Regions from separate parts of the Homo sapiens genome. Here region 2 is linked to region 1. The links come from fine-mapping of genetic effects on gene expression. Tissue or cell type: subcutaneous fat. Region 1 holds a variant in brackets; the other region holds the start of a gene. All regions are shown on one strand. Distances are between the middles of the regions.

Region 1 (2,762 bases):
GAGGAAAATTTAAGGGAAGCCACCCATGAAGCACATAACAAATTGAAAGGTTGGTTATTCTTATATTCGTGAGAAATTGCCGGTCATTCACGAGAAACAAAAACACATCTGATTGTGGGGCAGTCTCAGGGGTGCAATAGAGCACTCGCAGCTTTAGGAGTCCTTGGCACAGGCACCAGAGGAGTGGGCTGGGAGTCCTTTATCACACCCACTCTAGAGACCCCTTTCCTTCTCATCTCTTATTTCTCCCATCCTTTCTCCTCCACTCGTGTTTTCCCCACTCCTCTTTTCTTTGCCCCTTCCATTCCTTCTTGCTTTCCTGCCTGTCTTCAGCTTGCCAGTGACAATGGAAGGCACTGCCATAGATAATATCTTTTTGGATGTCCTTAGTTTGGTCTCTGTTGTCCAGTAAAGTGAATTTATCCATTTGAGTAAATTTCTCCAGGAATCAAAACAGAATAAACCAATCTTCTCTGGGATAATACTGTATCAGTGCCCTATCACTTCCTTGGTGGCAGGAGTAAATTTCCTACATCCTTTGTGCTCCTGACACATTACCTGCTATGACACTATGCACTGAACAGGCTTGCAGGGCAGTTTTCATACTGACTGAATGCGAACAACAAAATGAACATGGCTTACATTAGATTCACGGATGCTTATGAATCCAAACAGTTATACTAATTCTCATGCATTTTCATAACTGCTAGGTGCTTTTTAACTCCGTGCACTGTGAAAAGGACTGGGGAAGTATAGGCTGTTTTTTAAAGTAATCCACTTTTACTCTCTTGTGTTTCTAAAAAGCATGTAACTTAAATAGAAATAAATTATATTAATTCAGTTAGTCATTTACCCATATTAAAAAGCAGTTTCAAAGGTTTTTCCACACTGTGGTAAGAAGATATTCTTAGGGCCATAAAACACATGGCAAAAAATAATAATTATGCCATACCCGGAGCTCCATTCTTCCCATGTACTGGGAGATAAACATTTTCCAGTTCAGAAGAGATACAAAACCATCCCCTTCTCCTACTGCCCTTTGGCCTCTTCTGTGCTCCTTGTGGCACTG[C/G]CACAGCCCCCAGAGTAGCAGCCTTCATGGTAGTGCCAAGTAGCTGTGTAAGAAGCACAGAGCCCCCTTGGAACACAGGAGAAGAGCAAACAATAGAAGATACGTTCAAAGGATATCCTTATGGGGCTCTGAGTGCTCCCTTTCCAGCCCCTAACATAGAGCAGCACAGTGTCTAAGATGTATTCACTCTACAGTTAATTAATTCAGACTTTTCCATACTGGGTGTCAGGGCTAACTCCTATGCCTTTTGGATCACGTGAATGTTTCATTTTATTTATTTACTTTTACTATATGTAATAGTTTCTTAGAATTAAACTTTTTCACCCATTTTACATATTTTGTAAATAAGATGATATATGGAGTTAAAATTCTCTCCACCCTTGAAAATACCTCTCCCAACTTAGTGTTATTTTGGTAAGAAACTAAATATACAATGGATTTTAGCTATTAAGCATGGTTTTGAAATATGCTCACTAATCATTAAATAAGATAGAATTCAGCTAACTGTGCTACTATCCTTTATTTCTCCATTTGATATGCCCTCCTGCCCTTCTCCAATGTAGCTTAGTAAGAATGGTCTAGTGCAGTGGAACAACCACAAACTTTGTAGTGAGATAAATGTGCTATGTGACCTTGGGCAACTTACCTCATTGAGCTTTGAGTTCCTCATGTGTAAAATGGGGAAAATATACTTGAGGATAAAATAAGATAATGTGTATAATGCACCTGGCAAGTAGAAGGTACACAGTAAGTGGAAGCTATTGTCATTGCTATTATCCTATTCTTCAGCCAACATCTACATTGACTAAAGGTGACAAATAGTGTCCTACTCACTGGTATATGAAGACATGGAGATAGAGTAGAAGAAGGCTTTAGATTATCCTTGGATTTCAGAAGTTAGTTATGTTTATATTCTTCAAACACTACATGCTTATTCTGGTCATTGGTAATACGAATGTTCATGAAATTGTTTCCTTCTTGTCGTTCAAGTCTCAGGTTAAATTTTATCTCCTTAGAGAACTTTGACCAGCCCTTCCAAAGTAGCCACCCAGTCACTTTCTATTACATCATCATCCATTCTATTTCAATTATTTTCATTGCACTTATTAGTATTTGGAACTTTTAGAAAAGTTGTTTATTTCTGTTCTTTCTTTTCCCCTCCTCTCTTTCTTCTCCCTCCCCCTACCTCTGCTCTGTCTGTCTCTCTTTCTCCTCTCTCCCTTTGCCTTAGAATATATATTTCACAAGAAACAGAAACCTGTTCAGTCTTTTTCATTTCTGGGGAGATGGAGTCTTGCTCTGTCGCCCAGGCTGGAGTGCAGTGGCGTCATCTCGGCTCACTGCAACCTCTGCCTCCTGGGCTCAAGCAATTCTCCTGCCTCAGTATCCTGAGTAGCTGGGATTACAGGCACCCACCACCACACCTGGCTAATTTTTGTATTTTTACTAGAGACAAGGGTTTCACCACGTCGGCCGGGCTGGTCTGGAACTCCTGACCTCAAGCGATCTGCCTGCCTCGGCCTCCCAAAGTACTGGGATTACAGGAGTGAGCCACTGCGCCTGGCCTACCTCTTCAGTCTTAATCACTGCAGTCTCTCACCACCCAGAACAGTGCCTTACATATGATAGATAACAAATATTTCTTCAAAGAATGAATGCATGTTTCCACTTAGGATTTGAATCATGTCTAAGA
Region 2 (2,762 bases), 79 kb after region 1:
TGACGGGAAGACCAGCTACAGCCTCTGCGCTGGAACCTTCGACCCCTCCGCAGCGCCCCGTGCGCTGTATTTGGGTTTGTTTGCTACTCTGTCCCCAGAAAGCAGCATCCCCACCTCCTCATCCCTCCCTCCTCCGTGAGCGAGCCAGTTCACTGTGTCTTTCGCATCCACCATTCTTCGAGGGGGTACAGGCACAACCTACAGCCGCTGATCCCCAAGACCCTTGCTGTCACACTTCTTTCTGCAGGGTTATTACGACCAGGGTGTCACCCTGAATTTGGGGGACTGCAGATTTAAAAATAGTGCATGTGCCACGTGATCGGCATTGAGGAGCTGAGGGTGGGGGAGTGGCTGGCACTCAGGCAAATGATTAACATACATGACTCCCCCCACCCCCTCTCAATTAAAAAAAAAAAAAAAGAGGCGCAGTTTTCACCCACCATCTTGCAGTCGTCCAGGGCTCGTTGGGTTTTGTGGGCGCTCTCGGAGCCGCTGCCCCTGCGCTCCCAATCTCCGCTCTGCAGCGGGGGCTTGCTGATCTGGAAGATCGAGGAGCGGGTGGACCGGCTGGGGCGCTTTTTGCGCCCATTCGGTGCAGAACTCATGCATACACATCCACCAAGCCGAAGCCGCTGGTGCAGTGCGCCCCGGCGCGGGCGGCCCGGTTGTTGCCCTGGGCGCCGCCGCCAAGCAGCCGGAGCCCGGACCTGAGGCGCGCAGCTCACAGTGCTGGGGCTGGCTGCGCGGGTCGGTAACCTTCAGCTTGAAGGAGAGCCGGGGAAGCGCTAGCTGTGCCGTGCAGCATCGCTTCCACTAGCAGCGAGGAAGGAGCGCGATCAAGTTCTGCTCAGCAGCATTGCCGACCCTGTCCCGGGAGCTGGGCGCTGGCGCGGGCTCGCACTGCCTTCCTCTCGGCATGGATTGCAAGGCTGGGCGAGAAGGAACGCGCCGCCCGGCGGTTCCGAGTTTCCATTCAGGTGGGGGAGCAGCTTTCAAAGCCTGCGCTGCAAGGTGGGGGGCGGAAAGGGGTGTCGCTCTTGCTTCAGTGTCTTCCCGCAGCGGCACTCGGTTCGTCTTTCCCCTCCCTCCACTGTCGCCAGGCCTGGAAGGACTGGCCGTCCCCAAAGCAAGCAATTGGCTCTAATCGGCTGCCTTGATCCCTCGTCTCTAAGGGCTTGTCTGTTTGAAGATCCCAGATGAATCTGTGGCGGGACTGGCAGACGCAGAGAATCGGTCCGGCTGACGTTGTTCGCGGGCCCGCACATTGATAGGACGGGAATACTAATGTGATCTGTCCATGCAACCCCCTTCCCCCTCCACAGTTTATGCACTTATCCAATCAAATCCCCGGGAACATCAATTGCAATATTACTTCATCTGCTCTATTATTAGAAACGAAAAGTGTCATCAGAGTGGAGCACATGCCACATGCTGGGACCTAAACATGGATTTCAAATAAGCCAGTGTGGGCTTGAGGCCCTCACCAACTGAGACTGAGACAGGGGCCACAGGAGGGAGTGAGGTTTTGCTCCAAATGGAAGACCTCTTGATAACCTAAAAGGAGAGCTTTGTTTCCCTGAGTTGTTTTGTTTTTATTTTGTCCTTGTTCATGGAGGGGGAAAGAGGAGAGCCAGTGAGGCAGAATGCACAGAGGCATTCACTCAGATTGGGCCTCATCCCCATCCCATTTCAAGTAGTAAAGCTCTTGGTCTTGCATTGCAGGGTCTCAGGACTCAGCTCCTAGAGTTCCCTTCCGGAGACTTGAACAAATAAGAGCCAAGAGATCTCCCTGGACACTCAAAATGACCTTCTTCTCACTTATGGGATATCAGTAACCCAGAGGCCAACAGAGGTGGCCCAGAAAATCGGGGATGATTCTTGTGTGAAAGGAGTGGGGGTGAGGCCCTCAGCCATTTAAGTTCACCCTTCCCACTGACATCTTCCTAAGGTTCTTCTGGGAGGAAGAGAGAGTGTTGTGGCATTCAACTCTAAGGCTCTAAGGATGCTTGTTCTCCTGAATGATTTGTTTGGAGAGGGAGATAAAGGGGTCTCCCATAGGAAAACTAGTTATGTATTAGTAATCCTAATAAGAACAGATTAGAGGTTCCTGGTCAGTCTGTTAAAGGGATATGGAGAGTACATAGAAAGAGAAAGCCTGAAATAGCCAGGAAGGTTAATATCCTAAGGAGGGTGGCTTTACAACCTTTTCTACAAGACAAGTAAATATAATGGGGTACTATAATAAGAGAGTTATTTGGTCTTTGTCCCCAGTCCCTAGGGCAGAACTCCTAAAACCCTTAGAAATTGCCTGAGTTATTATGATAAGCCATCTTGTCACCAGAAAGACCAAGCCTTGATTAGTTGCTTGCAACTTTCAGCCTCATCCCCCAATCTCAGGGGATAGGAGAGGAGCTAGTGACTGCGTTCCTCACCAATGGCCAATTATTTAATCAATCATGCCTACATAAAGAAACCTCTGTAAAACTCCTAAACAACAATAGAGTGTGGGGAGCTTCTGGGTTGTGGAAGACATCTAGGTGCTGGAAGGGTGGTACACCAGGAAAGAGCATGGAAGTTCCATGTCCTTTTCCCATACCTTGCCCTATGTTTCTCTTCCAGTTGGCTGCTCCTCAGTTGTATCCTTTAGAATAGACTGCTAATAGTAAGTAAAGCTCTTTCCTGAGTGCTGTGAGTCATTCTAGTGAATTACCAAATCTGAGAAGGTGGTTATAGGAACCCCTGAATTTGTCGCCAAGATGGAG

Alleles and levels. Positions count from the first base shown, and alleles are read on the strand shown. Sizes are in standard deviations (SD) of each study's normalised expression.
With allele C in place of G in region 1, the expression in subcutaneous fat of the gene that starts at base 1,215 in region 2 is lower (small effect, 0.27 SD a copy in GTEx).

The links. PIP is the estimated chance that this variant, and not a neighbour inherited with it, causes the effect.
Region 2: it holds the start of RGS7BP, and the variant in region 1 is fine-mapped to the expression of RGS7BP in subcutaneous fat (GTEx, PIP above 0.99).

What each region holds. Positions count from the first base shown.
Region 1 is chr5:64,582,979-64,585,740 of GRCh38, reverse strand. The region is part of intron 3 of RGS7BP (regulator of G protein signaling 7 binding protein); the gene reads right to left. Among named protein-coding and RNA genes, the nearest start is that of RGS7BP, 78 kb to the right of the region's middle. The variant C/G (reference allele first, on the strand shown) is at 1,070.
Region 2 is chr5:64,504,468-64,507,229 of GRCh38, reverse strand. RGS7BP (regulator of G protein signaling 7 binding protein) reads right to left here and starts at 1,215. Exons shown (of 6, transcript NM_001029875.3): 1 at 441-1,215. The coding sequence starts at 605.